Linked DNA regions of Homo sapiens. The protein of the gene in region 1 interacts with the protein of each later gene in a biochemical or structural test. Each region holds a gene or a part of one and is shown on either strand. Other genes may lie near its edges.

What was found.
Region 2: the proteins of KCTD1 (region 1) and TFAP2A form a complex in vitro, tested with the Homo sapiens proteins (one study listed by BioGRID).

The regions. Positions count from the first base shown.
Region 1 is NC_000018.10:26,454,466-26,458,117, forward strand, and holds the end of KCTD1 (BTB/POZ domain-containing protein KCTD1), read right to left. Parts: intron 1,437-3,652; coding exon 1,278-1,436; 3' UTR 445-1,277; downstream 1-444. UniProt on the Homo sapiens protein: May repress the transcriptional activity of AP-2 family members, including TFAP2A, TFAP2B and TFAP2C to various extent.
Region 2 is NC_000006.12:10,397,924-10,401,575, forward strand, and holds part of TFAP2A (transcription factor AP-2-alpha), read right to left. Parts: intron 2,667-3,652; coding exon 2,525-2,666; intron 783-2,524; coding exon 494-782; 3' UTR 1-493.

The DNA of each region.
Region 1 (3,652 bases):
CTCCTTCTTGGAATCCACTTACCATGTTGAGAGGGGCCCAAGCCACATAGAGGCCAACAGCCAAGTATTTGCAGCCATCTGGGTGAGCCATCTAGGACATTCCACGCCAATCAGACCCCTGGATTGGAGCAGTGGAGCAGACATGGAGCAGATGCAGCCCAGCGAAGGCCAGTATCACAGGCCAGAACAAAATGTTTTAAGCCATTAAATTTTGGTGTGACTTGCTCTGCAGCCAGATAACTGAAATAGGTGTAACCGAAAAGTCCGTAAGAAGGAAGATTTACCTTGCTGACCAATGCAGAATAACAAAGCACAGGAAATAACATTTGCTGGGTCGGAAGACAACTGTCTGGAACAGGTGATGACATCCTTAGCCTTTAGTAGGTTTTGACTTCAAAACTGACCCCGGCTTTCATGCCTCTTTTTGATGCTCAACACGGACAATTTCAAAAAGAAAAAATTTCACTTTAATCCAGCCTCACCCCCACATGTGTGTTTCACACAGACCTTATTTTTTAAACAGAGTTTATTGTATTTAATACATTATAAAATTTGAAAAATTGTAGGAAAGCAGCAGACTTGAACTGGAGCAATTCTAACAAGGAATAATTCTGGCCCCTTGGCAAAACTGATCAGTTTTAAAACAAAGTAAAGTTCACATCTGTGAGGTGGACAAAAAAGTGTGACTTCTGTACAAACTACATTTAAAATTTCATGTCTAACATCTTTGCAATGTGCTCATGAGGGTTTTTCTGAAGTCCTGCCTGGTCCCTGCCTAAAGAAAGACGTGGAACCTCCATATACAAACAAACTTGATTCAAGGTGTTTTGTTTGTTTTGTTTTTTTAAAAAAAAAGGAAAAAGAAAGACAAAGGAAAAAAGAAATATGGATGGCTGTTGTTGGCAATGGAAACTGTAAGGAGACTGTGTCCTCACCACTCATGGCTTGTTTATTTGTCAGAGGCCTCGGAAGGCCCAGGACACTTCACGGCCATCACAGCACCAACTGCGGCTGTCACCTTTTTTTTTTTTCTTTTTTGCATTTCCTACCTTTTGACATATATATATATATTTATATATTTTTTACACCTTGAGGATATCACTATTCCAATTGTTCCCATATGAATACAGGTGTGGTCTCTATTGGATATAAATGTGTCTTTTATTCGATTTTACGTCCAGGACTTGGTTTGCTGTCCCAACTGCACATAAATGTCCCTTTTTTGTTTGAGTTATTGGTTGTGTGTGTTTTCCTTTTTGCATAAGAAATATGTCCATTTAGTCCAGAGGCTCTTGCTTTATCCGGATGACGGAGGGTACACGGGGCGTCCGCCTCAGTTCCCGCCGAAGGACGTATTCGCTGAACTGGGACGAGTCTACTCCTCCCCCACAGGAGCCCACGATTTCAAATCCTCTTTGCTGCAACCTCTCGAGGACCTGCGAGGGAACAAGACAAGCATCCAGTTAGGGGTGAGGTAAGTCCTATGGCTACATAAACACCCCAAAGTTTGAGATTATGCGCACTCTGGTTCATCTCATCCAGCACCCATGTCCCTGTGAGCTGCTCCTCTCAAAGGAAGACCCTGGATTAATGGGCAGGAGAGAGGAAGCAAGCATTTCTAATGCCTAAAATGTGCCTTTCATGCTTGCTTTACACACACCAGCTACAACACTCGATGGTGTTAGGCCCATTTTATAAATGAGAAAACTGAGGTTCATGGCTAGTCAGTGATGGGACTGGGTTTCCAACTCAGGTCTGTTTGGCCTCAAATCTCCTGTTTTTGTATATGCAATGCTGCCCTCTCTGTCAAAAATGAGGGTTCACATTTCAAAGCTCATTTATCACTAAAATACATCCTATGAGATGATAAAGAATCTGGAAAGGACAGTGATGGCAGAGTTTACTTAGTCAGTGATTCATTTGTACTCTCAACTCCGCCTTTGTTCAAGTTTTCCTAATACCGAGTTAATATATATGTTTTGGCCTGGAAGATTGATGTAATTTCAATAGCAGAACAAAGGGATTACTGAAGACACTAGAGGATTATCTACAGGTTTTCAAGTTTGTAACATCTGAAACAGATTTATTGCCCTGCATTCATTCAAGGAGACAAGAACCAGCACAATGATTACATATTAGAAAATGTAAGAAAAATAAAGATATTCTAAACTTCTTATACAAATGTAAGCCATAGAATCTGTTCCTTAATTTTGAAATCAAAAACCTAACGCCAGCAAGATTCCTGGGTTTGGCACTACATGTCTGACACTGTTAAATGCAGGAAACAGTACCTGTGACTCTTAGATTAGATAGACAAAAATACAGGAAACTGATCTGGAGCATTCTGTTTCTTTAGGAATCCAACAAATATTAGACTTGCAAATGTTTCCTGCCCGAGTTCTGAATATAATTAAATTACTTCCACACCACCTTAAAGGCAAAGTGATTCAATCATAACTTAAAAAAAAAAAACAAAACAAAAAAACCCACCTCAAAAAAACTTTTATTGGAATGAACTGAAATGTAGTCAATGTAAAGTGAATCCTTACTTTTTTAAAAAGTATTATTTTTTAGTTGCCTACTTCAATATAGAATATAGTCTGCTATGTTGCAAAACAGCTTACTAGATGAGATGGGAAAGCAAGAGAGTATGTTTTCTAAAAATTAATTAAAACCTCAAGTGCTGGCAAATTAAAAAAACATACACAAGTCCTTATAAGAACAAAATTAACATTCTACCCAGCAGTGCTCTATTTCTGTAGGTAAATTCACAATGCATATGCATACCTGTCAGCATAAGGACAGGAAGAAAACAATCCCTAAATTCAAAATCAAGATGTGCTTTGGTGGCAGGTAAATACAAAGACGAAGAACAGCTCCCTCCATGGATTCCCCAGCAGAGGCAGGAATGCAGCCCTCAGCAAGAGGCATCCCAGCTTGCTTGGCCAAACCAGCACCCTGGAAAAGATCCCTTGCCATGATTAGGAGAGGAAATCCAAAGGGGAGGAAGCCATGAACAGCAGAGAACCTAACCCTGATGTCCATTTTTCTTTGAGTCTTAAGGTCACTAAATGCTAACAGGAGGAAATCGCTAAGCTCTTCTTCGGAGTCCGATAGGCATCATGTGATAATTATTCAATGTGATCCAATGTTACCTTGGATGTGGTCAAAAGCTTATTTCAATGTAATGCAAACAGCTGATGGAGCCATTACTTTGGAAACAACAACACGTTCACAGCAAAGTTCCTTAAACAGTGATCACACAACAACTTAGTGAGGTATCGGGTGTCGTAAGCCTTATCCCAGAGTCTCTGCGTGCCCATAGGCTGGTGCCTATTTCTTGGTCGGTGGAGCAGGACGCAAGGGTAGGTCATGGCTGTGTCATATGACCACGTTAATCCAGATGAAAATTTCCATATCTGATGTGGGAAACTGTCAAGCACATGAATTGATGATCGTTATTCACTGGCCCAAAGGTGTGGCCGAGGCCTTCCTGTCCTGGCTCTGAATGGTTCTGCCCCTCTGTCTGCTCCAGTGATAGCCAGGGCAGGCTGTTGTGTGGAAGGGGACAGGCTTTCTGGGCTTTAAAGAGGCTTAAACTGCTGAGGCCGTCTCAGGAACGCTGTGCAGGGCCATGCGGGAGCACCACACA
Region 2 (3,652 bases), on another chromosome or scaffold:
TTTTTTAAGTATGGCTACAATCTGAACTGAAGTATGTAAGGGAAGGTGGTGACTCAGTCCCATGAAGCGCATATAATTTTTTTTATTTTCACTTTTTTTTTAGAAAAAAGTTTTTAATTTTTGTTGTTGTTGTTGCTGTTGTTGATTTGTTGTTTTGTTTAAAAAAAAAAGGGTTCACAAACTTGGCAGAACTTTTCTCTGCTGGCTTCACGGCCTGTTCTGTTCTCTTAGGCTCCACATGAGGGCACAGGGGTGTGGGAGCGGGTGGGGAGGTCGAGGCGGGTGCAGAGTCGGAGAGGCTGCCCCACTGACAGTCGAGAGGGCAGTCCCGGAGACTCGGGGGGACCCAAGGGCAGCGGCGGCGGCGGCGGCGGCAGCAGCAGCAGCAGTAGCAGCAGCAGGAAGGGTTGCTGATCCCGGAGCTGTCACCCGCCGGAGGGTGGGCGCGCGGGGGGCTGGTGAGGCGTGGGAGGGGCGGGGCGGGAGGAGAGCCTCACTTTCTGTGCTTCTCCTCTTTGTCACTGCTTTTGGCGTTGTTGTCCGTGTGGCTGTTGGGGTTGTTGCTGAGGTACATTTTGTCCATGGCCTTGAGGGCCTCGGTGAGATAGTTCTGCAGGGCCGTGACCGCGGCACACACCGCGGGGCTGCCGAAGCCGTGGGAGATGAGGTTGAAGTGGGTCAAGCAGCTCTGGATGCCGGGCTCCAGGATGGGGTTGGGCCGTGAGTTCCCCAGGGGAGATCGGTCCTGAGCCAGCAGGTCGGTGAACTCTTTGCATATCTGTCTGCAGCACAAGTGGAGCAGAGAGAGAGACATAAGGCTCCACTATGGGCAGCACTAGCAGCAAAGAGAAAACCTCCCTCCCTGCAGCTACCTCTGCCGGGATCCAGCCGGTACCTGACATGACCCAAGACCCCAGAGACAGACAGTGTGGCCACATGTTGGGAGATCCAGCCACCTTTCAGTGACCACTAAACCATCTCTCTTTACTTCCTACCTTCACAAATGACTCTCTCTCTCTTTCCTCTCAGATATGGTAAACTTTTATTCCCACCTTTCTCCCTCACACAAAACATCCTAGACATAGGAAACCATTTCACACATTGGAAGAGAAAGAAAGGAGTCACGCAGACCGGAAGTCAGAAACAGTAGCATCTTGCGAACATTATGCTGCAGCCATCAGCCTTCCTATTCAAAATGTCATAAAGACCCTCTTCCCTGCTCCTCTAGAGAGACCTCAGCAGCAGTTTGTAGAATGAAGTCCACACTCGTTCACCTTCAAATCAAATTCAGGTCAATGTGGACAGAGAGACAAAACTTTACTTGGGATTATTTTGCCTTTAAAAAACAAGAATAACAAAAAAACAAAACGGGCCCACACAAGCCCTGTTACTTGGAGATAATTCAAAGTAGTGTTTGGGAAGAAGAAACAGACATTTCGATTTCCCATTCCTCCTCTTTCCCCACATAGCTCAAAATAAAAATACTGCAGGGAAATTGTGGAGATGGGTGTGCTTACGAAGCCTGGGGAAAGAGAAAGTTGAAATTTCGCAGAGGTAGATGAGGCCTGCACTCAGGAAGCTCTGTCTCTGAATCTGGGAAGCAAGGGCTAGCTGGGGCCTTCCAGGGGCAGCAGCAGCCTGGCCTGGGGGGCTGGGGAGGGGGATGAATGAGGAGCCTGGGCTGGCTCCCTTCTCCAAGGCCAGCTGATGTCCCCAGGCCAGAAACAGGGTCCCACCCAAGGCCTCAGCTTCTGCCCTCTGCTTCCATGCCCTCCTGTGACATCAACTTTGATAATTAAGGGCTTCCAAACAAGCCTTTTAATTTCCAGAAAACACATCAAAACAGTCATTTTCTTTTCACACATCACCTGGAGAAGCCTATTCAGCCCAGGCACCGATGGGAATATAACTTGGGCCATTTTGAAATCTATTTGACTTCTCGCCTGTGGGCTAAAACTTATGTGGGGTGTGGGTCTCTCTCTCTCTCTCTCTCTCTCTGTCTGTGTGTGTGTGTGTGTGTGTCACTTTCGAGAAGGGGTTGTGAAAGGAAGGTAAGAAATGGAATAACAGATTAGGGTTGAAACTAGGACAGCTTCTGGCTTGCACATTTTGCAGGCCACTGTTTAATCTTTGCCCTTGGAGAACATATTGATAGGATACAAAAACTGATATAGGTAAGCCTGTTACCCCTTTGAGGATTTGATTCTGGTCTTTCTGAAACAACATAGTCACAAATCCACCCTTAACTTCAGTCAAACCCCTCCTACAACCCACTCCCATACACACTCATTAAAAAAAAAAAAAAATGAGTAAATGGGACAGATGAGAGGAAAAAGATGGGAGCGCCCAAGAATCCCACCTGTATTTCTTCCTTAACATAGACTATATATAAGATGGTGTTATAACTGCAACAAAGCTGATTAACACAAAAGGAAAACAAGGGAGAAGGAAGAGCAAAAACGATTTTTGTTTCTCTTTCTCTTGACAACGAGACACAGAGACCCCATAGAGGTAAATGCCTTACTTTGTAGCCAGGAGCATGTTTTTTCTTGTCACTTGCTCATTGGGATCGGAATGTTGTCGGTTGAGAAATTCAGCTACTGCTTTGGCAGGAAATTCGGTTTCGCACACGTACCCAAAGTCCCTGGCTAGGTGGACAGCTTCTCCTGGCAAGAGGGGAGAGGAGGGAGCCAGTGCGAGAGAATGAAGAGTGGGGATCCTAACTTCCTCCCCACTCCCAACTCCCTAATTCCCTTCACCCCAGATGTTGCAGGAAACACAAACTACTTGTTTTCTCATTTCAGGCATTTTATTTCCTTCTCTGTAGGATCTGGTGGATGCATTTATCAGGAAAAATGACCACTTCTCCTAGAGGGCCAAGAAGACTTGAAAATGAAAATCTCATCCACCAACCTCCAGTCCCATCCCCCACCCTAAATGACACTTCTCCAAATTCTCTTTTAAAATGCTTCTTGTATTCCAACTTCACACCTATCAACACATTCATAAATGATATTCATAATTACTCTTTGAGCTTTTCTGCAAGGGAACAACTGAGGGGTTACATTTTAACTTGATCACATAAATTATCTGTTCATCCAAACCGATTAACCAAGAGGATTTGAGGGTCACTCCACTGAGTCTGTCTGTGTTGTTGATTTTCGAATCTTTGGTTTTAATTTCCTGAACCAGTTGGTTTTTACTGCAGGGCTTCCTGCCATTAGCTCCAGCTCCGGAAGAACGCATGCGCCAATTAGAGCATCAAAGCCCTCTCCGCAGAGCTTGTTTCCATAAAATGGAGCGGATCACAAACAATAACAGTTCTCCAGAAACTGCCTCCCTGCTACAGAACTCAACCCCCAAACCCAGACGAACTCCACGCTATACCTTAAGCCACCACTACCATTTTCTTGGCTTATAATTCTTTTGGAGTATGAATAGTGGGTTCTCTATGGACTGTTATGATTTTTAATGTAATGGTACTGTAGTTGAGTTTCTGGCACTGAACAATTGCTGATTTTCTAAACAGTTATATTACTATCAATCTCTGACATCATCAACAAAGAGAATTCATAGGATTCCTCCTCAAATATATGGTTTTAAACATTTTAAAAAATAATTTACAAAGCCAGAACTTAAATTCAATTGTAAT